Linked DNA regions of Homo sapiens: regions 2 and 3 are each linked to region 1. The links come from fine-mapping of genetic effects on gene expression. A gene starts in region 1. Each other region holds a variant in brackets. All regions are shown on one strand. Distances are from middle to middle. Region 1 holds the start of RFFL (ring finger and FYVE like domain containing E3 ubiquitin protein ligase). Region 2 overlaps RFFL (ring finger and FYVE like domain containing E3 ubiquitin protein ligase). Region 3 overlaps SLFN13 (schlafen family member 13).

What was found. PIP is the estimated chance that this variant, and not a neighbour inherited with it, causes the effect. A credible set is the group of variants that fine-mapping cannot tell apart.
Region 2: its variant is the best candidate, but not a certain one, in a credible set for the expression of RFFL in whole blood (TOPMed, PIP 0.86).
Region 3: its variant is the best candidate, but not a certain one, in a credible set for the expression of RFFL in whole blood (INTERVAL, PIP 0.87).

Annotation. Positions count from the first base shown.
Region 1 is chr17:35,059,098-35,066,835 of GRCh38, forward strand. RFFL (ring finger and FYVE like domain containing E3 ubiquitin protein ligase) reads right to left here and starts at 4,610. Exons shown (of 7, transcript NM_001017368.2): 1 at 4,479-4,610. All of the region lies in intron 5 of RAD51L3-RFFL (RAD51L3-RFFL readthrough), which reads right to left. RefSeq lists enhancers at 4,161-5,360, 4,447-5,242, 4,692-4,791 and a silencer at 4,382-4,451.
Region 2 is chr17:35,017,152-35,024,889 of GRCh38, forward strand. It overlaps RFFL (ring finger and FYVE like domain containing E3 ubiquitin protein ligase), which reads right to left. Exons shown (of 7, transcript NM_001017368.2): 3 at 4,220-4,630; 4 at 372-455. All of the region lies in intron 5 of RAD51L3-RFFL (RAD51L3-RFFL readthrough), which reads right to left. Among named protein-coding and RNA genes, the nearest start is that of LIG3, 41 kb to the left of the region's middle. The variant C/A (reference allele first, on the strand shown) is at 3,359.
Region 3 is chr17:35,438,193-35,445,930 of GRCh38, forward strand. SLFN13 (schlafen family member 13) reads right to left here. Exons shown (of 6, transcript NM_144682.6): 3 at 6,423-7,501; 4 at 5,597-5,728; 5 at 3,371-4,094; 6 at 1-3,174. The coding sequence starts at 7,488. The coding sequence ends at 2,403. Among named protein-coding and RNA genes, the nearest start is that of SLFN13, 6.7 kb to the right of the region's middle. The variant G/A (reference allele first, on the strand shown) is at 3,828.

The DNA of each region.
Region 1 (7,738 bases):
AACCTCCGCCTCCCATGTTCAAGCAATTCTCCTGCCTCGGCCTCCCAAGTAGGTGGGATTACAGGTGCCCACCACCATACCCAGCTAATTTTTGTATTTTTAGTAGAGACGGGGTTTCACCATGTTGGTCAGGCTGGTCTGGAACTCCCGACCTCAGGTGATCCACTCACCTCGGCCTCCCAAAGTGCTGAGATTACAGGCATGAGCCACTGCGCTCGGCCACTCGATATAGGTTTATAAGTGATGAGAGACCAAGAAAGAGAACTCACAGAGAACCAAGATATCCCAGCCAACAGCTAGCTCCAAAGGTACAGACATGTGCAGCCTTCTTGGATCCTCCAGCTCAATCAGCATCATATGGGACAAAAAAAAATATGTCCTCCTTTCCTGAATTACTAACCCACAAAATCATAGGCAATAAAATGGTTGTCATGTTATGCCACCAAAAGTCTTCGGGTAATTTGTCACACAATAGACAACTGAAACAGTCAGAAATTCAACACTCTCTTGGGCAGTCATTCAAACATTTCCCCACTTTGATGATCAAAAAATTCTTTCTCGTATTCATCAAAATTGCTCCTCCTTCAATTTAAGACCATTTCCTCTTAAATCTTTGAAGTTCATGAAGAATAATTAATAAAAATCCCCCTGGCAAAACTATTCTTGTATTTGAAGATGATAATGAAGTTATCTCTTAGCTTTTCTTTCTCTAGGCTAAAATCTTTCCCCCCTTTTTAAAACTTATAATGATAAGACCTGTTTTTCAACCTTTTAATCATTTTAATTATCCTCTCAAGTATGAGAGACCCAAAATTGAACACCATATGCCAATATCTAACAGAGATTATTTCCTAGCTCTAATGGTTCAGCTTTTTATAATGGAATTTCTCATAGTCCCAAATATGGCATTTTAGCACTCCAAAAGTTGTGAAGTGATCTAAAAAGTTAATTACTTACTATAACTGTAAAAGGTTTTCTGCCCTTAACACTCAGCTTACTCCATTTTGGGATGACCGCTTTCACTCACCAGCCTGGTTTGATACTCCACCAGGGCAGCAGGTTTTCACAACTTCCAGATATTTGAAGTATAAAAGAAAAACCTGAGAGGTTGGAGTACGCACACCATTAATTTCAATCAAGGTCTCTAACCACAACCAGGGCCTTCCCATAGGTCAGGCAGGTTCAGAGTACCTCCTCCTCCTACCTTGATGATAAAGTGGCCTTGTAAAAGGCAAGACCGTTAGCACTTGCCTATCGAGCAAAGGCACCATTTCTGTGGAACCTGATAGAGTATATTTAACTACTATATTAAGAGACAAACCAGCTGCTTAATGCAGTGTAAGAACCATGTTTTCTCTCTGAGTCTTACCTAAATGTATATATGCTTTGGTATCAGACTAGCTTTATAATCACTGGTAAAATAGGGATAATAAATAAAGCCTACCCAACGCAAATAAAACCATATGAGGGAAATAATTTTGTAAAACACCATAAAAATGTCGTGATATTGCGGGACTAGATCTCAGCAAACCCTTTAAATCTTCAAATTAACTTTGAATGATTACTTGATGGTGGCAGGTAACACATACAAAATAAGCAGCCATGGGCTCATGTTCATCAAATAGGAATGAAAAACCATGCCATCTAACAAAAAAGCTTCTAATATTGCAAAGAATAACGGTTTGAGCCCGGAGATCCACGTCAGCCACTCTCTCTGATGGTGCCAAGCTCTAGTCCAGGGACACCAAGTTCAGTCAAAGAACTCAACAGTCTAGTGGAAGAGACAGACAGTGCTGTCTGTCAGAAAAGACAGAGAAGTCAGAGAAGATGCATATATGAACTAAGTGTCCTGAGGGATGAGTATCTTGCCAGTTAGAGAAGGGAGAGTCCATTGGGAAAAGGCAGAGTCCTAAAAGACATGGTATATCCATGGAATGTTAACATGAGAAGTTCAGTGAAGCTGGAGAGGAGAGAAATGGCCAGGGGAGAGGGAGATGAGATGGTTAACAGCAACATGTAGGAAAGAATCCAACTGTGAAAGCTTTTAGAAGTCAAGCTAAGTGGAAAACAGGGAACAAATGGCACCTTAAATGAAAAGATTAGATGTGGACTTTAAAAAGATAACTTGGGCAACAATATGGAGAAGATAGGAGCAAGGAAAGACTTATGGAGGAGTGGCCATTTGATAAGGGTCTGAACTAGGAGTTACAAACTCAAATTCCTAGAGGCAATGCAGGTAAAATGCTAAGTCTTCAGTGTGTAAGATGTCAGAAAATGGTGGTATCCGTAATCTTTGAAGAGTACAGGCCTTCTCTCTGATGGTGCCTAAAAGTATTCACACACAAAATTTTAAGCCCTTAGGCTGACTGATTGATTTTTGGGATGGAGTCTTCTTCTGTGCCTAGGCTGGAGTTCAGTGGCACAATCTCAGCTCATTGAAACCTCCACCTCCTGGGTGCAAGCAATTCTCTTTTCTCAGCCTGCTGGGTAGCTGGTACCACAGGCACTGGCCACCATGCGTGGCGTGCCTTTTTTTTTTTTTTTAAATACAGACAGGGTTTCACCATGTTGGCCAGGATGGTCTCAAACTCTTTTTTTTTTTTGATATGGAGTCTCACTGTTGCTCAGGCTGGAGTGCAGTGGTGTGATCCTCGCTCACTGCAACCTCCACCTCCTGGGTTCAAGTGATTCTCCTGCTTCAGCATCCTGAGTAACTGGGATTATAGGCACGTGCCACCACGCCCAGCTAATTTTTTGTTTTTAGTAGAGATGGGGTTTCACCATGTTAGCCAGGCTGGTCTCAAACTCCTGACCTCAGGTGATCTGCCCACCTCGGCCTCCCAAAGTGCTGGGATTACAGGCGTGAGCCACCGTGCCCAGCCTGACTTTAAACGTCCAGTTTTGACCTCTGGTAAATTAAGGCAATGACAGTGGGAATGAAGAAAAGCCACACATCAAACAGTACTCCAACAAAATCAACAGGGTTTAGCACATTTAAAGATGTGAGCATAAAAAGAATGAACAAGGCCGGGCGCGGTGGCTCACACCTGTAAACCCAGCACTTTGGGAGGCCAAGGCAGGTGGACCATGAGGTCAAGAGATCGAGACCATCCTCGCCAACATGGTGAAACACTGTCTCTACTAAAAATACAAAAATTAGCTGGGCGTGGTGGCACGTACCTGTAGTCCCAGCAACTCAGGAGGCTAAGGCAGGAGAATCGCTTGAACCAGGAAGGCAGAGGTTGCAGTGAGCTAAGATCACACCACTGCACTGCAGCCTGGGTGACAGAGCAAGATTCCTCTCAGAAGAAAAAAAAAAGAGTTGATGAGAGGATCAGAGTTGAGAAAGTACAGTACAGGCTCTTGCTCATTCTACCCTTACTGAGAACCTACTATGTGCAACGTACCATGGATACAATTCTAGCAAAGCAGACCCTGATTCTCAATACATACTATGATTGGAGTAAATACCAGGTTCTCCTGAGTACTCAACCCTGGTAAGTAAGAAGAGGCTTCATGGAAGAGGTGACTTCTAGGCTGAAACCAGTTGGCCAGATTAAGCTTGGGGAAGGTGTGTAAAAGAACGCTTACATATGCTAAGGTCTGAGGTGAAAGAGAACGTGGGCAATTTGTTGGAATTATAAGGAGCAGAAACGTAATTTGGAGGGTGACGACTACCTAGAGATATCATAGTCTGATTAGGTGAAGGACTCAAAAGTTTGGCGATGAAAAGCAGGAGGGAGATAGAGTAGTAGCCTAGTAGAATTAGAGATGAGGGAGGTTCTTCCTATTAATTCAGAAAGGAATATGGGAACAAACTCACTGATAAGACAGTGTTCTCCACAACTCAATATTTAGTTATTAGGAAGGCAACCAAATGCCTTCACTTCTTTTCCTTTAACAATGGCTTAGTTTGACTAAAGTGTTTCTCACAAGATACACACAAAAAAACAAAATACAAGAGCAAATGACGGATAAAGCTGTAAACCTAACGTTTTACTTTTCTAAGATTTATATAATCAGTGATTTAATTGGACCTAACTCCACATCCAGAACTCAAATGAAAGAAAACTTCTGGCCGGGGGCCGTGGCTCATGCCTATAATTCCAGCACTTTGGGAGGCTGAGGAGGGTGGATCACCTGAGCTTGGGAGTTCGAAACCAGACTGACCAACACAGCAAAACCCTGTCTCTACTAAAAATACAAAATTAGCCGGGCATGGTGGCGCACATCTATAATCCCAGCTACTTGGGAGGCTGAGGCAGGAGAATCACTTGAACCCGGGAGGTGAAGGTTGCAGTGAGCCGAGATCACACCATTGCACTCCAGCTTGGGCAACAAGAGTGAAACTCCGTCTCAAAAAAAAAAAAAAAAAAAAAAAAAAAAAAAACCTGACTCACTTCTGAAGACAGGATTTTCCCAGTTTCTAATGCAGCTTCATCTAGCTAATGAAACTTAAGAAAACAGTTTGAGGTTACCTGATTTTGCCAGTTTCAAAACATTGCCACGACAGAAAGCAAGCTGTCTCTAGTTCCTGTGGCTGAGGTCGCTGGAGCCATGTTCAGATGAGATCATCTCAGGAACCAAGAGCAGCGGCTTTCATGTGAAGTGAATGGTGCCGCCTGGGGATGTATCTTTGGTAAGCAAGATTGCAACACAGCAGGGAGTTTACCCAGGGCAGTGCTGACTCACGCTGGGCAAAATTTGTACTTCCCAAACAACTCAGCCTGAACCAACCGCAGTCAACTGCAACCTAGGAAAGAAGAGGCAGCTCACTGATTGTTTTAAATCAAGTGCTGATTACTGGGGGCAGGTAAACCTCATTCCCCCACTACTGGTAACTTGGCCACCTCCAGAGCCCTTACCCAAAAAGTTCCAGTGGCCAGTTTCTAAAATTTCATCTGAGAACAGGCTGGGGCTGGGGCCAGCAAGATTACTGAACATAGCAGGTTCACAGCTCTGAAGATTTCCCCAGGAGGCTGATAAATAAGTCACTTTGCATTTACAAATTAGAACATCTGGGTCAGTGGACTCAGGGAACTTGCCCAGTCATCATTAGCCAGTCAAATCATTAGGGTGAATTTTTGTCAGTTCTAACCAGGCTCATTGTTCTTTTTTCCCACTAGGCCTCCTCTGACCTCTCTATTTCTTCAGACAACTCAAGTTCTCTCATTAAGATAGATGCACTGGAATTTTTTTTTTTTAATCAGCTGCCACATTCTCTATGCTAAAGCCAAATCATTTACCATCACACCTACTGGATGCATAGGGAATACAGAAGACTATGAAAATCACCTTAACACTTGCTCTGAAAAGAGACATCCCTAAATTTATGTCAATTCTCATTTATTAGCCTGCTTATTTAAAAAATCAATCTAGAATGACTGGCTCATCAACAGCTATTAATTACTGAATTTGCCCTGACAGGCTAGAATTGACATTGGTGTTATACAAAAAAAAAAAAAAAAGATCAAGTCCTTGCTTTTTGTGTGCTTTAATTTGACAAGAGAGAAACTAAAGTTCCTATTAGATCCTTCTGTTTCCTGCTTAAAATGTATGACAGTTCCCCAAGGCCATCAGCTATTTCTTAGCAGGGCATTTGAGGCCTCTGCACCCAGCTTCGTTCATCCTTTAAGGTAGGTCTCACATGGCATGAACTCTGGATGTAGCTGCCAACTCAGCTTGTCATTCAATAATGTTAGGTTAATTAAAATGTACGTGCAGACAGAATTTGAGTTTAAAAACTATACTACTTAATTTTCTATTCAAGGGGCTAGTTTTAAAAAGTTATTTATCCAACTCACTTAATTCTCCTTAATTACATTATTCCAGTAGGATAGCCACGCTGAGCTTTGATAAGGTATTATAAAATGTTCCCTGTTTTATTTCCTCCCCTTCAGTGTTTTCCTTTCAGAAAATGGCTTTGTTTAAAGAAGTTTCCCTATAGTACATGTTAATTAGTCCTTTCTGAATGATAAACACATCTTTATAGCAGCTGACAACCATTATCTCTTCAACCACACTTTAAAAAAAATTTCTGTAGTTGATGATAAGTTACAAATTCTAGTATGAAACAACTCTCAAGGTACAGACAAATATGGAACCTCCTTCAGAAAAAAAAAAAATGATTAGAAAAGCTCCTGACCTGTTCTGTATTTGCGAACTTTAAATAAGAGGGCCGGGCACAGCGGTTCACGCCTATAATTGCAGCACTTTGGAAGGCCGAGGTGGGCGGATCACCTGAGGTCGGGAGTTCAAGACTAGCCTAACCAACATGGAGAAACCCCCATCTCTACTAAAAATACAAAATTAGCCAGGTGTGGTGGCACATGCCTGTAATCCCAGCTACTCGGGAGGCTGAGGCAGGAGAATCGCTTGAACCCGGGAGGCAGAGGTTGCAGTCAGCCAAGATTGTGCCATTGCACTCCAGCCTGGGCAACAACAGAGCAAAACTTCGTCTCAAAAAAAAAAAAAAAAAAAGAAAGAGAAAATCCAGACAGTACTATGCCCAGGAGACAGATACGAACTATATAAAGAGCAGCCTGAAGGCCAAAGGCATGGAACTCCTAAGTTGACTAAGAGAAACACCATTGAGCAAGTGAACAGAGCTGCTGCAGCTTATCATTCCCCTCTTTGGGACTCTGATACAGTTTTAACCAACTGCCCCAAATTATAGCCACACTCCATCCTAGTTCTTCCTTTTAAAGTGGAAAGGTTGAGGATTACATTTTAGAGCTTAAAAAGGTACTCGTTTGAACTAGTGGTTTCAGGCACTTGAGGATTTATGAGGTTACATGAAAATTATGAGAATATGAGGCTATGGGAGAAATAATAACTGTGGCTTTCTGACTAAGTTCTTTCAATACATTATTTTAAAATTAGCCAGGCATGGTGGCATACACCTCTAACCCCAGCTACTCTAGAGGCTGGGGCAGGAGAATCACTTGAACCCAGGAGACAGAGGTTGCAGAGCCGAGATTGCGCCACTGCAATCCAGCCCAGGCGACAGAAGGAGACTCCATCTCAAAACAAAAAACAACAAAAACAGAAAATACGTTATTTTAAAACTCAAGTAACTTAACACCCAAAACTATTTATGCTTTTTTTAATAGGGTGGTCTCAACAGATATTTAATGAGTGTGCATATGTGTATGTGCCCATTGTTTCATTTGAACAGACATATGTGATGTCATTGACATCCCAGATTTACTTTCTTTTCTGCAATAGATCTTGACATTATAAACAATAAGCAGGTTTCAAAAGAGAAATTAAAATATCCATTTCTCAGGATTCTGTAGTCTTCCAAATCCACAGAAAATTACCAAATACATACAGAAGATCTGGGAGGATGCACACAGCAGGGAGAGCACTGTAATGGGAATAAAGATCAAATAGCTATGTTTAGCTTTATCCAAATTACCCCCCAAAAATCATGAATTTTTTTACAACAAGCATATATTCAAATATGACTTGGTAGTTTAAAATTCAGTTAAAATTTTAAAGTTTGTATCACTTACAAACTGCTTTACTCTCTCTTCACACTCTTTCCTCTCAACATCTCCCTTTTATCTACTTCCCTACCCCCAGCATCCTAAATGATACTGCACATTTCTTGTTTTTAACAAAATTAATCTTACTTGTGTCCACATCCTTTTTCTAACTGAGAAGTCGGTGAATGGATAAATGCACATTTCCAGGAATCAGTGCCTGTCTCACCTTGTTGATAATTAATGATTGC
Region 2 (7,738 bases), 42 kb before region 1:
CTGCCTGGCTAATTGTCTGACCTCCTTCCCTTGACAATGGCTACAGTGTGCTAGAAGCAAGGAAAGAACAAGACTTTAACAGCAGGACCACAAGCCTGCCCTCCGGCAGCTCTTAGAAAGTCAAGAGACTGGAAATACAATGGGCCATGAGGCTTCTCCGTCTCCACTGTGACCTCACAACTCCTTATAAATACACTGACCGCTTCACTAGTTAACCTGGAACACTAACACTAAACCCTACCCCAAAAATATAATTTCGGAAGCACTATCATCACACATTTATTCTCTCTCCACTCGACTCTGCTAAGAGGTTCCGAAGAACACCAGTGAAAGAGGAAAGGTGAAGACACAGACCCAAGCAGAGGCCCCACCTGGGTCTCATCCTCAGCAGGTACTCTGGCCACGCTCTCCAGGTAGACGGGTTCCTCTTGATCCTGAGACACATGGCCATTGGCCTGTGGGAAGAGAAAAGTAACATCACATCTAGAGATGTCCCAGAGATCTGCATAGCATGGGCCTCTTTTCAACTCACACAATGTCCAGAATGTACTCCCATCATGCCCAGAAATCCGGAGCCTCTTACAGCATCATTACAAAAGCCTGCTCTCTCATACCAACTTTGTCAAGCAGAGAAACAACAAAAATACATTTCAATAGACAAAGCTGCCCTCTAGAACAAAACTGCATTAATTCTGCACACACCAGGATGGCAGTAGCCACAACTCATCATCAATTTAATCTCAGCTTGAGCACCACAGGTGAAGGGAAGGTCATTGTGTCCATTCCACTGCTGGACTGCTCTCTATCTGGCATCAAGGTTTTTCTTGACACTGATCCAAAATTGCCATCCCTATCCCTGGTTCTGCTCCTCAGACCATAGTCTCCTGGGGTTTTTGTTTGTTTGTTTTTTGTTTTTCCCAAACTGTTTATACCATGTTTTCCCCTCCTTCACACTAAATCTCCCTGGCTTCCTTATCTGACACTGATGGGACAAAGTTTCCAGATCATCACCACCCTAGTCTCTTTCTTTTCTGCCTAGTAACTACTCTCACATTCTGGAAATGTGCTCCCCATGTTGAGCACACTATTATTAAGTGCTATGTCCAGACCTAGTCAAAGAGTATTTTAATGTATCTAAGAATCTATTAGCCTAACACTATATAAAACACTGCCTATGCTTACGGAATTTCATTATGCTTAGAATTCTCACTTCTCAAAAGGTTCCTCCTGAGTACTCTTTTAGGAGGTTTGGCCAAAGAGTAGGCAGAACTGTTAGCCTCCTAATTCCATCACCATTTAAGCCACAAACCCCTTAAGTAGATCCTCTTCGCCCACTGCTCCCTGCAGGCAAAGGGCCTGCTGTGAGCTCAGAGCAAAGAGGTGTCTGAGCTCACAGGCCTTTTCCACCAGATTCTGGGGATGCCAGTGAAGGGACAATCTGGGAAACCAAAGACACCCACCGACCCCAGCCACTCACCCCACATTAGGATTCATAATATGGAGCTAATCAAGAAGAGGCAACCAACTGCAATGGAAATGAAAAGCAGAAGTAACAAAATGCCAAATCAAGGCAAGATCAAATGCATAGTACACATGTATGGGGATGGATCCAAATCAATGTCTTCATCAACAACGTTTTCTCTTAGCTTACTGTAGATCCTCACTGGTCTCTCAGGTAGTGTTACCTTGGAATTACCCTGGAATCCTTCAGAGCCTAACCTGTTCCTAAGTAGCTATCTTTCAGATGTCCTGTTTCCTAGAAAGAGAAACGACCTCATGCTGCAAAGCATGCTCTTGTCTTTCCAGTTTGCCCACTGGCTAAATAAAAATCCAAAACTAGTACCTGTCCACAGTTGTGCTTATTGTATATACTTCCTTGCCTAGCAACTATTGATTGCTAGGGCACTAAAGGTGAAAGAGAGAACTCTGGTTGAGCAAGTATTATAAGGAAATTTACATTCTAGGTGCAGCTCACTTATGAACTTGTCAGACAGTACTGCGTAAGTTACTTAATTCTTCCATGCCTGTTTTTCCTGCTTGCAAAGTGCAGCTCTCACCAGAACAGGGGATGTAAGCAGACACTAAGGTCTCTTGAAAATCTCAGAGGAAAAGTACCCACTTAGATCTTGTATGTAGGGTGACCTTTAGGTGCAATCTGGAAATTTCTGGTTAATGACAGGAAGCTTATCATCTTTCATTGAAAAATCTACCTGAAAAGTTTGCTTGGTTTTTTGTTTTTGTTTTCTGAGACAGGATCTCACTCTGTTGCCCAGGCTGGAGTGTGGTGGCATGATCATGGTTCACTGCAGCCTCGACCTCCCAGGCTTAAATGATCCTCCCACCTCAGCCTCTTGAGTAGCTACAGGCACCCACCACCACGCCCAGCTAATTTTTGTATTTTTTGTAGAGACAGGTTTTTGCCATGTTGCCAGGCTAGTCTCAAATGCCTGGGCTCAAATGATCCGCCTGCCTCAGCCTCCCAAAGTGCTGGGATTACCAGGCATGAACCACCACGCCCAGCCAAGGTTCTTTACAGAAAAAGAATTCCTCAAGTTCTTCTCCTGGCTCCTTATACATAGAGTGGAAAAAAAAAAAACACAAGCAAAGGGAAGAATATATAGCAGGAGTTTAAATCTGTCTAGCAGACCAAGAGTCAGAGCTTAGGAAAGAATTAAAGTCCAGCTGCGGAGAAAAACATGTTCAGGCCAAAAAGGGAGTTAAATGATTTTACTGCAGTTAAATTATGCTATCACATTGGCCTTTATGCCTCAGTGGTTGTCAAGAGCTGAATCAGGGGGCCCAGTCCTGGCAAAGGAGGTGATCATAAACAAGTGGCAGCAGCCATCCACATCATGTGTGGGAACCAACAGCACTAGCACTATACCAGCTCTAAGTAACTCAGAGCTCTTTTAGACATGGTATCACGCATTCAGGTCTCTCAACATCCTGGCAAGATCAAAAGTGGTCTGTGATTACTAACCTCATTTCATTGTTGTAGGCTCAACATTTGCCCAAGGGGATCAAGAAGTCAGTGACAAAAGTGGATGTGGAAATTGGATCTTGTAGTTCCTAATTCCCCCATATTGCCCAAGCCCTATAGATCAAGGGTCCCCAACCCCTGGGCCACAGACTGGTACTGGTCCATGGCTTGTTGGGAACCCGGATGCACAGCAGGAGGTGAGTGGCTGGCAAGTAAGCATTACTGCCTGAGCTTTGCCTCCTGTCAGATCAGCGGTGGCATTAGATTCTCATAGGAATGTGAACTCTGTTGTGAACTGCGCATGCGAGGGATCTAGGATGCATGCTCCTTATGAAAATCTAACTAATGCCTGATGATCTGGGTAGAATAGTTTCATCC[C/A]AAAACCAACGCACCCCAGTCTGTGGAAAAATTGTCTTCCACAAAACGAGTCCTTGGTGCCAAAAAGGTTAGGGGCCGCTGCTATAAATAACAGAGTCACTTAAGGCACTTATGCAACATCATCACTTCTTATACAACAATTATGTCCACTGGCCTCACTCTAATCCAGTAGTTAGTTGGTCTACCTGTCTACCTTCCCTCTTCTGGGGGCTTTTTGAGGACAGAGACAGTTTATTACTCATTTCTATACTCCCCAGACCTGGGTCATGATTCAGTTGATGTGCTGCTCTTAGCTTACCACTTCCAAGCCCCCCAGGATAATGAAGAAGCAGCATGCAAGTACAGCGTGCCAACTACTCCTGCTTCCAGCCAGTGACTGGTAAGAGAAGCAGTGTCTTTGTCTGTTTCCCCACCCTCCCTTGCCTCCATATAGCCCTTTGCTTTCCTATATTCCTTGTGATGGTTACTAAGGAACTAAGTTTCCAATCCAGCCAATGAAGACTGCAACAAAGGAGTTAAGTTGAAAGACAAATTGGAACAGAACTAAATTTGATGGCTTAATGGTTACTTTTCTCAAAATATTTCTGGAATGATGAACTTTAAAAAATGTCTAACTAGGATATGTGTGTATTAAAAACAAAAAACAAACAAAAAAATTGGTACTGTGCATATCACCTCTGAAGAAAGCCAAAACATGAGTCTGATACCCAGAAAACACTTGGTGCACCAGTAGTCAGAAAGGCTTCACATAATCAAGACACTTAGCCTTATACCCCATTCTCACAACAAAGGCAGGAGAGGAAAATGAAAATGAGCCCTCAAACTGGCACAGACTGGCAGAGACTACAAATGGGCCCTTACCTGCTGATTCTCCTGAACCTGGGCTGGGGGAACAGAGGTGGCTTGTGCAGATGAAGAGGGGAGGTTGGGTGAGGTAGGTGGAACCATGCTGGAGTGAGGCTGGGTCAGGAAGGCCTGCTGCTCAGGAAAGTCTGGGGACAAGGTGGAGGCACGAGTCCTGTCCTCCTGGGAGATTACAGGCTGCTGGCCAAGGACCAAGAGCACCAGCTCTTCTTTCTCCCGGCACATTTCGGTAGAGATGTCATGGAGGCTGAGATAGTCCCTCAAGTCCTTCACCTTCATCTTCATGAGCTCCTCTCGCTGAAAGGCTGTAGCTCGAAACCGTTGGCAGAGAAGGCAGAGGCGGGGCCCATTCCCTACTTGGCTCGAACAGGTCATGCAAAAATTTTTCTTACAGTCCAAGCAGGTCTGCTGCTTAGAGCAAAAGACACAGGAAACCATGTCAGATTGAGAGAACAAGACAGAGAGTGCGATGGGAGCTTCAGAGCTGCCAAGCCCAGCAGGATCTCCTCCAGTCACTCTTACTTTTACTAAGCTCTCTCATATATCTAAGGGTGCAAGCCACTTTCAGATTTTAGATTAAAAGCCACTCGGGTGGAAGACCTCCACTATGTATTGTGTATATCCATGTACAGGACACTTCACATTTATTATTTAATTTGAGGCTTACTTTATTTACTCCTGAAGCACCTGAGGTATTAATTAAGACTACCAGCATAAGAATCAAAAAGCTCTGCATTTTTATTAAGCCTCCCTCCCTTATTTCTTGCAGTATCACCTTGGGTGTGTAATTTAGCCTCTCTGGTGCTCAGTTTCCACATCTGTAAAATGGGGGTGATAACAGTATCTACCTCATGGGGTTGTTGTGAAGATTAAGAGAGAACCCATTTAGCATATCTAACACAAAATGAGTCCTCAACAAGTGTAAGCTGTTTTATTATAGCTAGGAAATATTACCTAACGGTGACAGCCAGGATTCAAATCCTAAACTGTAATTATTTCTGCATGAAGGTTATGGTGGTGGTGGTTGTTACAATTAATATTAATTTATTGAGGTGCTTCTATATGCTAGCTTGTCATTTAATTCTCAAAGCGACATTGCAAAGTAGGTATTAGTGTTCTTCCCTGATTCACAGACAAAGCAACCGAGGCTTAGGGAGATCAACTGTTGTATTCAAGGTCAGGCAATAAACAGGAGAGCGGGTATTCACACTCAAGGTCTGTTGGAGGCTAATGCCCATGATCACATTCTTTCCACCAGGCCATACTGCATAGCTCAGTTCCATTCAAGTACAGAGCAGTTCTGAGTCAAGGGCCTGGCTTCCATCTCCAAATTCCCCACCCACTGCTCCATCGACACAGGCTCCCCACTCCAGGAAGGCCCACTCAGAGTGCTGGGAACCCAGTGGTGCTTACAAGCATATCCAAGACAAATATTTAGACAGCAACGGGAGGCTGTCTGGACATCAGGGTACTCTCGTTCCTGAAAGCACAGAGTGTCTCAGTTAGGCAACAAGAGCGCCTGATGGGCAAGCTGGTACTGCCTGGCAGCAGCTAGTCTGGCAGTCGCTGACAACACAGGAAGGCTTACTCAGCCCACAGGAAGCAATCCTCGGCCTCTCACCCCACAGGCTGAGTGAGCACAGTGACATCCGGCTGAGCTCTGTTCTGGCCAAGAGCATGTCACATCCCCAACAAGAGAGGTAATTCCTGAGCACACTGGGATTGGCCTGGAGGGCACCCTCATTAATCCTTTAAAGAAGTTAAAAACTTTTCATCCTGTGTTGACTTAAGTAGTAACTTAAATATTTCTGGTCCATCTTTTCGAAATATAGAAAGATATTCAAGCTAAAAAAGAAAGCTCAAGAGACAAGATTCTCATAGTCAAGATCACAGACACTCTGGGCTGAAGTAAATGTCTGCATAGTTAAGATAGTTATATAAGTTTTGTCTAAGTATCATTCACATAGTAAAGGGAAAAGGAAATAATATTTACCACCCAGTTTTGGCTATTAAGACTTAGAAGGCATTGCAAAGGGACATATATCAAGCTCCCTAATTCTCCATACAGTTATAACCAAACAATACTGTTCAGAGATGGACTTAAAAGGATGCATGGCTGCACTAGCATTGTAACGGTTCTGGGACCAGTAGCCATGCAGGCAGAAAATGGATGTTTTCAGGTATTTGGGGTTCATTCACATCTAAAGCTTTTCTATTGGGAAATGAAGTCTGTTTAGGATGACTGAGACTGAAACAAAGAGGCTTCAATGCCATAAACCTGTGGGCCTGACATGGAATATTACTTAAGTCGATGCAGTCTGACAAGACCTAGCTTGACACAATTATAAAGCCTGCGTTGCTCAATCAGCCAGATCCAAACAACTCTCTATTCTTTCTTCAAATGTGTGTGGCTTGCTGGATGCAAGATCAGAATGCAGACAACAACCTAGCTTCTATGCACCCGCTGGCTCACAGGGAACTCTGAAATAAGCTGGCATCTGAAACACACCCTACAGGAACAGGATAGGGCTTGAGGCTAAAACCCCAGTTTGCAGTGGCAGAAGAAAACAAGAAGAAAGGAAAAAAGGGCTGTCAACAAATGCAGGCAGAATGAGCAAAGGACACACTTATGTATAAATTCTGCCGAATGGTTCAAAACAACTCAGTAACCAGGTAGCATGAAAGATGAATTAGTGGAGGCAACCAACATGCCTGCAGAAATGCCCAGGGTGTACTGAGATATCCAGCATCACAGAACTGGCCGTGGCGCCTCAGGCCGACACCACCCTTCAAGGATGCCGTGTGCAGGGTTCTGCTGGCTCCCGTTTGCCAACTGCCCTTCCCTTGCTCCTACTCCCTCCCACCCTATTCCCTGGAATATGGGAAGTATTACATGAGAGAATGTATATAAAACCTTAGCACAAAGTGGATGCTCCAGAAAAGGTAACACGGTTACCTTTTTCTTTCCCCTTACCAGCACCTAAGACCCAGTCCTCTCTTAACACTCTGAGATCTGAATATCACTTCCATGGCTCCAAGCATAACCTCATCCTCCAACTGGTCCAACTAAAGAGGCTGGGTGCCAGACTCCCTCCAAAACCGTCAGGGTCGCTGCTAAACCACAGGGAGGTATTACCAATAGAGATGGGGTATTTGGCTTGTGGCAAAAGTACAGCCTGCCATTTCTCTTTAGGACTGAAAACTCAGGGAATGCAAGGGCCACATCTTACTTATATTCTGTCTATAAAGTCCTGAATGTTATCTGTGCTTTGCACCCAATAAGCATTCAGAAAGTACTGACCATAATGAAGAATAAGGAAAAGAAAAAGATAGTAGGATCCATGGAATCATTTCAATTCAAGCACTTCTAGAAAAAGACATTTTGAAAGCCCCTGGGTGTTAAATGCCAAACCCTTAAGATAAGAATGCTGATCCACTTAAGCATGAAATTACAAATGAAAAATTCTCATAGATGAAAACACCCTTAATATTCACAAAATTCACTGTAAATTGCAC
Region 3 (7,738 bases), 380 kb after region 1:
TCAGTCTTCTCCTTTTCCTCCATTTAATCATTTATTTTACAGAACCTTTTTTTTCAGTTTAATGAAACACAAACTCTCAATTTTTTATTTAAAACAGAAATGCAATAAATATATAAGCTAAACATTTCCTCATCATATGGAAAAAGAAGAAAGCATCAGTAATCCTCTTTGGGCTGAACAAAAATTCATAAATATTTATATATTTTAAAATATGATACTGTTTCAAATATTACTAGGGCAATAAATCATATAGAGAGATTCAACCAGTCAGAATTAGACTTTTAAAGAATTACTCTCAAAGGCTGAAATAACTCCAAAGACCAGGGAGTTTACTAAGAACATTTACAAAGATAGCTTTTTGGTGCTGAGCTGTATCTCATTTAATGCAGCCAGAAAGAAAGAAGAAATATTTTTCTCCTTATTTTGCTGATCTGTCAGATTTTGCTCAAGTTAGAAGAGCCTACAATTTCAAGGCTAGACAACTGGAATTCCATGAGTTAACACAAATAGGAGAAAGACTGGCAGAAAAGTTCAAAACTTACAATATGGAGGGAAATCAGCCAAATAGGATTACTTATAAATGGAATATTGGGCATGTGGTTTCTTAATTTTCATTAGTTATGCAAATATTTTATTGTTAGTATTTAGATTAGTGTTTTAGAATGTTTTGTAGAGACTGAAAAGCAAATAAGTAATTGCATTAGCATTGTTAAGTATCAGTGTTTTTAGTTTGATGAATGATCATACAGCTGTGTTCTCAGGCTGCAATAACAAAACACTAGAGACTGGATGGCTGAACCAACAGAAATTTATTTCTCACAGTCTGGGGGCTGGAAGTCGAAGACATAGGTGCCAGCAGGGTGGGGGGGGGGGTTCATTGTGAGGCTTCTCCTCTTGGCTTGTAGGTGGCTGCCATCTCTCTGTGTGCTCCCATGCCCTCTTGTTTGTGTGCACAGGGAGGAAGGGAACAAGCTCTCTGGGGTCTCTCCCTATAAGGACACCAGTCTTAGCAGATCAGATTCTCCACTGTGACTTCGTGTAACCTTAATTACTTCCTTAGCAGCCCCAGCTCCACAGTGAAGGTTGGGGCTTCAACATGGGAATTTAGGGGTGAGGATGGGACACAAACATTCAGTCCATAACAATGGCCCACCAAACTATGAAAGCAAATAGAAAAAAAAATCACAGTTCAAGAATGACATAAAACTTAAGTAGTTATGCTATAGAGTAATGCATACAGCTACGCTGAGATGTTACAATGTAACAACATAAACTCACTGCATTTTTTTTCTTCTTCTTCTTTTTGAGACAGTCTCACTCTGTTGCCCAGGCTGGAGTACAGTGACATGATCTCAGCTCACTGCAACCTCTGCCTCCAGGATTCAAGTGATTCTCATGCTTCAGCCTCCCAAGTAGCTGGGATACAGGCATGCACCACCATGCCCTGCTAATTTTTGTATTTTTAGTAGAGATGGGGTTTCTCCATGTTGGCCAGGCTGGTCTTGAACTCCTGACCTCAGGTGATCCACCTGCCTCAGCCTCCCAAACAGCTGGGATTACAGGTGTGAGCCACCGTGCCTGGCCAACGCTCATTGATTTTTAAAGAAAATCTTTCCCAAGTTTGTTCACCGTACATCTGATACACACTTTCAGAACCAGATTTGGGTTTCTAATATTAACTTCTACTGAAAGCCAGCATTTTCTCTTGGCCTATAATTTCTCTGTAAAGGTACCATTAATGTTCACTATTACAATTAAGCCTTGGTCTGGGTTATTCTGATAACAAACTCTGGAGATCACAATTTTAAGGATTAAATAATCATAACAATATTGTTTGTTCTGCCGAAATGATTAATCTGACAGTGACTGAATTATCTTGGGACTCTCCCAAGCCCTAAATGAATACAGCAAAGATAAATTCAGGAAACAACTGCTTCTCCTATGGCCTGTAAGCTCCTAACAGACCATGCTTCTGCAGAAAACAATTCTGGACAAATTTTTTAAAGCAACAAACTACACGAAGTCACATAAAAGAACTCGAGAACTCCAGCCTTGGAAGAAAGGCCACAGGCTGAGTTTCTTATTTTTATGGCTTTTACCCAGAGAGCAAGACACAGGTCTGCATTGTGCAGCACAGCTAAAGTTCCTTTAGAAAACCACCATCTTTCTGGCTGCAAGAGTCAGGGGTCAGAATGGGGGGCAGCCACCACTGCTGAAAAGAGTTGGGGGAGGAACCCCTGAAAGGAGAGCCAGAAATGGGGGAGCTCCAAACTCTTTGTGTCAGCTCTGTCCAAATCTCTAACTGACTTGTGAACTAAAAAGAAAGGTTTCTACCATCAGCAGACTGTCACCCATAGACATTTACACAGTATTTTGGTTTGGAGTTCTTCCTAATAGTCACTTCACAGAAAAATATATAGGTGCTGTTTTGCCCTGGAAGCCAGACAGATCAGAATATTGGGTAAGATAGCTGGGTCAGCTGTCCTTGGATGGATCCCAAACACTATGCTCCTTTCCAGGCCTGAGAATCGCCGGACACTGTCCAACACAATGTGCACACCCAACATATCACATGCATCACTGAGCTGCACCACCATTTTCTTCCTCATTGCTTTCAAGAGCTTAGACTGATACTGCTCCACTTCTGTCACGGTGCTGACAAGCACAGCAACATCCTTTGGAGAATAGCCCCTTTCAAAGAAGCACCTGCAGGTGTCTGCCACATAGGTCACTATTTGCTCCAAAGTAAAGTTTTTAATAATCTTTGTGTTGCCTGGAACACCTGGAACCCATTTAGCTTCACTGAGAATTGCCAGATACCCATGGGGGATATTAATTGGAGGATTTTCTATAATTAGTTGCATTTCTTGTTGTATGTACTCGGCTATTTCATCTGCATTGCGAACTACTCTGGTGAGCTCTTCTCTTGGATACTGTGCTGAGAGAGGGGGAAGGCCACTGTGACCCAAGTGACTGGTCTGAAAGTAGTCCAGAAAGATCCAGAGAACTCCTGGACAATCCTTTTCTCTCTGAGTGATGGTTTTTGCCTTCCTATACCAGTCCCCATCTTCAGTACGGAAATTCTGAGCTTCGTCAATGACGATGTGTTGAATGTGTTCAAATTTTTCTCTTAGGAAAGTTTCCCGGGTCTCTGCTCGGCAGATATTTCTATCACTGTAAAAATTAAAAGAATACACTCAGGTTTTCTCTAAGAAAACAAGGGGAGAAAATGATTGTATCATGTTCCTCCGAGCACAGTATATTGCCACAGATCATTTTACCACTCAATTCTCAAGGAAGAAGGTGACTTAGCAGAAAAAATTAAACCCAGATTAAATAAAACTTAAAGACGTAAGATCCAACTGCTTACCTGATAAAGTTCCTCAGAGGCTGGTTTTCACAAACGTAGAGAATTCTGTGTGCCTCACAGTGAAACACATTCCTGATCTTCTCCATGATCTTCATGGCCATGATGGTCTTCCCTGAGCCAGGTAAGCCGTGGACAAACAACTCTCTGTTCTTGCGGAGGCTTCTGGAGAATATCTCATACTGCTGGGCTGTGAGCAGATTTAAAACCTCACAGCCGAGCTGGTCACTCAAGAGAGACCTGAAGCCGAGTAAGACAATCACGAGGGACTGCAGCAGGGCTTCCATGTGCTGGGTGCCTGCAAGGCTATAGGACGCAGGGTAATCCATCGGAGACACTGCAGCCTCCAAGGCCTCTGCGCTGCTCTCAGGACTCAGGCAGAGGACCTTGGCCCTGACACACACCTTCCCGGTGTAGCCCCCCATGTTCACTAGCTTCTGCTTCAAAGTAAAGGCGGTGC[G/A]AGTGCAGTAGTCCTGGCCCTCTGCATCCTGCTCCCTGAGAATGGTGTAGAGAATGGGGGTGCTGTTCTGTGCTATCAGCAGAGCATCACAGATGACTCCTGGCTTCTCCTGCAAGTTCAGGTCCACAGCCCAGCTTCTAGAGAGGATCACAATTCCCTGGGAGAAAGGTCGCATTTGCTTGTGTATTAACTCCTTTAGTCCTTCATGCTGTAAAGACAGCTCCTTCCAGAGGGACTCTGGAGTACATTCCAAATGTCCTGGTGGAACTAGACAGGAAGAAAATAGAAAGATGTTTTCACTGTGTTTATGTGATTTTGTATGAATCACATGTTACATTTAAAAGACAGAGGAAAGCCCCCAAAGAATTGTACAATTTAACAGAAATTCCTTCTGGTGCATCTCTGGTTTTTTGTTTGTTTGTTTGTCTGTCTGTCTGTTTTTGAGACGGAGTCTCGCTCTGTCGCCCAGGCTGGAGTGCAGTGGCCCGATCTTGGCTCACTGCAAGCTCTGCCTCCCAGGTTCAGGCCATTCTCCTGCCTCAGCCTCCCAAGTAGCTGGGACTACAGGCTCCTGCCACCACGCCCGGCTATTTTTTTGTATTTTTAGTAGAGACAGGGTTTCCCCATGTTGGCCAGGATGGTCTCGATCTCCTGACCTCATGATCTGCCCGCCTCGGCCTCCCAAAGTGCTGGGATTACAGGCATGAGCCACCACGCCTTGCCTGGTGCATATCTCTTTAACCCACAACCTACAAATCTGGTAAAATGAATGATGTCACCCTTCTATGTATCTCATGGACAGTGGAGCATGTCAACTGAAATGCAATTTACTGAGCCTGAGAAAGTGAAAGCCATGTATTCAATTACTCTTGCACCTTGGATTCTTAATGTGGAATGTTTAAAAACTTTTCTGATAAGCTAATGACTATAAAGCTCTCAGGTAAGTAAAGAAACTATTTGGTGGTAAACAGACCTAAGGAAGGCCTAATATATGAATTACCTTGCCCTTCATAAATGTTTGGACATACGTAGGATATTTGTGTATCATATTCTTTTGTCAAATCTCATACTTAATATGTTCAATGTATGAAGTTAAGCCATTTCCCTCCTTGAAAAATCTAGGTTTCATTTTGTAAGTAGGAACTCCGAGAAAAAAACCTTGCTAAAAAATGTTTGGGCAGCAGGGAGAGGGGTTACATAACATTGTCTATGGGCTTGAATTATTATTTGGTGCCACCTTTGAAGCATTAGCGAGTCGTTCCCTCTAGCCTCTTCCAAAGAGAAATTATTTGTGGTTTTTCTATATTCTTATATTCTACCAGGTGAATGTTTTTATTCCTTTTACAGACATAATTCCTCCATCCTTGAAAAGTAGACCAGAAGTGGCTAGTTATTCCATTGTTCCCCTTGTAGTTGTACTAGATCACTGGTTTCCAAACCCAGCAGGGCATCAGAATAATTTGGGAAGCTTGCCCAAATGCATATGGCTAGGCCTTTCCCCTGGAAATTAAGCGTTCATAAGTTCTTGGTGTGGGCCTGGAGATCTGCATGTTTAACTACCTTCCATGGCATTTCTAATAATCAGCCAGATGTGGCAACCAATGGGCCAGATGATTTCTAAAGGCACCTGAAACTCATCCCCAAGAGGCTTGTGGCATTGTCACTGTGTACACCTGGATCTGCAGGACACAATCTTTCATGGATTTGTTTTCCACGAAATGTATTAAATGACTTCCTTCTCTCCTGATGTAAAAACTGGCAGTCAGTACCTGGAAATAAATGTTGTTGTAGATCAGCTTTGTGTTCCAGACCTTTCTTAGAATACACTGGTCTGCAAAGTGAAGGACTGTCAGATAGACTCAACTGAGACTCAAAGGCCTCAGCAAAGTCTGGAGGAAACTCTGAAAGAAAGAACATTTTAATTTACACTATATGATTTCATGTCTCGCTATTGGAATAGGCTGTACAAGGCTGTGTCTAAATTTCATCTAACATGGTACAAGTCAGGCCACAAAGTCAGATGCTTTACCCTTTCTTGACTCTATGTCCAGGTTCCCAAAGATTCATCATTAAAAGCCCTTTTTCTGATCCTTGAATGGTGTTTCCCCATGCAATATAATGCCCCCTCTTCCATGTTTGAATAGTTCTTTGCTTGAATTGCAGTGGAAAAAAACTCTCTTTAAGTTATAATCATCAGGTTTTTATATCCCTGTGCACGCACCTCCACTAACCTCAACTTAAACAAACCTCAACCAACACTAGCTCTTGTCTCCCAGAGTTGATTTTATGCTAATCTGAGGTACAAGCTAATCACTATTATGAGGCTCCAACAGATTCCAATTCAATGGTTTTATTAAAGGAACCAATTTCCAAGGTTTTTCCTTTGCTTCTTCTTTTGTGGGAAATCACCATTCACAAAATATCTCATTTTGGCTTTTTCTCACCCAATAAAACTTCCCATCTATGAAAAGCATGGAGATTTAGAGAAAGTAAATTTCAGTGGGTGTGAGAAGGTCAAGCTTAGAGAATAAAGAAGGAAGTGGTATTGGGGAAGAGGTAGAAAGGTCAGGAAGGGAGAATCTGGTTCCCTCTTACCTGGATCTGCGTCCATCATTTTCTCTACCCATTCCTCAGTTGTCAAGGGGCGGATGTACTTCTCCCTCACCATCCATGACTTGGGAGCTTCCGAGAACACCACACAACAGAATGCCTTCACTTTAATCACACAGAGATAGCCATACAACTCTTTCCCACAAAACACTTCTACGATTTTGGTGCTGTACTCTACCCGAGGTTTTGAAGAGCAAAAATGAACAATGGGCAACTTAGAAATTGCTCTTGCAATTACATTTTTCAAAGAGTCAGGGTCAACCTGTTCTTTGGCACATCCCAGGACTTTCCTACTCTTATCATCCACTCCAATAAAAAGATAGCCTCCCTCAGTGTTTGCAAATGCAGAGATGTACTCTGGAATTATATTTTCTACATATTGTTGGATATGTTTTGTAGAGAACTGTTTAAACTCTATGGATGGAGACTCAGGAAAAGATAGGATTTCACCATATTCAATAGTGTCAGTTTGGAAAACTTCATATGCAGGATTTGACTCAGATATGTTCTGGTATACAGCTTTCATAATTTTACTAGGTGGAGACCCTTCATTAATCAGATTATATTTGGACTGTCTTTCCTTGGTCTTCAGGAAATCGAATGCCTGTCTTGAATTCATGTGAAGCACAGAGGTGCCAGATCTACAGTATAATGAAGAACTAAGGCTGCAAATGCGGGAATTGAAAGAACCATCTTTAAGGAAAGGATCACCACTCCAAGATTTAACAAAAATATAAAAACACCTTCCGTGTTGCTTAGTCTCAAAGAAAGCCTGCAAATATGGATACTGAATAAGCTTTCTCAAGGATTCTTCTAAATCCAGTCCCATCTCTGTGGGACGCTCATCCCTGTTGGCCATTTCCATCTGAATCACTCCTCCTCCTGAGTTTAATAAAGCACACGCGGCCCGTATAACTCTCGCCCTCTCTTGGTCTCTCTGAGTTTTCTGTAGCTTTTTTCTGTTTTCTTCTCCCAGAGTCACTTCTCCGACATCGATGACCAGGTCTGGGTAAGATGGATACACACCCAGGGAGCAGTGATTTGCCTCCATGTTGAACTTGCACCTTAAAGTATTAGAATATTTGTTTCATTTTTGATTAAAAAATTGTTACAGGCCTGCAATTCATTTATTAGAAAATATTTAAAACGTGTCTAATATGTGCTGGGATAAGACAATAGCAAGAAAGACAGGTATAGTCTCTTTAGGAGCTGACTGGCTGGCAGGGAAGGGAACTAATGAAATTAGCCTTTACCATCATCTGTGACATGGGCTCTAAGAGGGAAAACACATTGAATAGGGT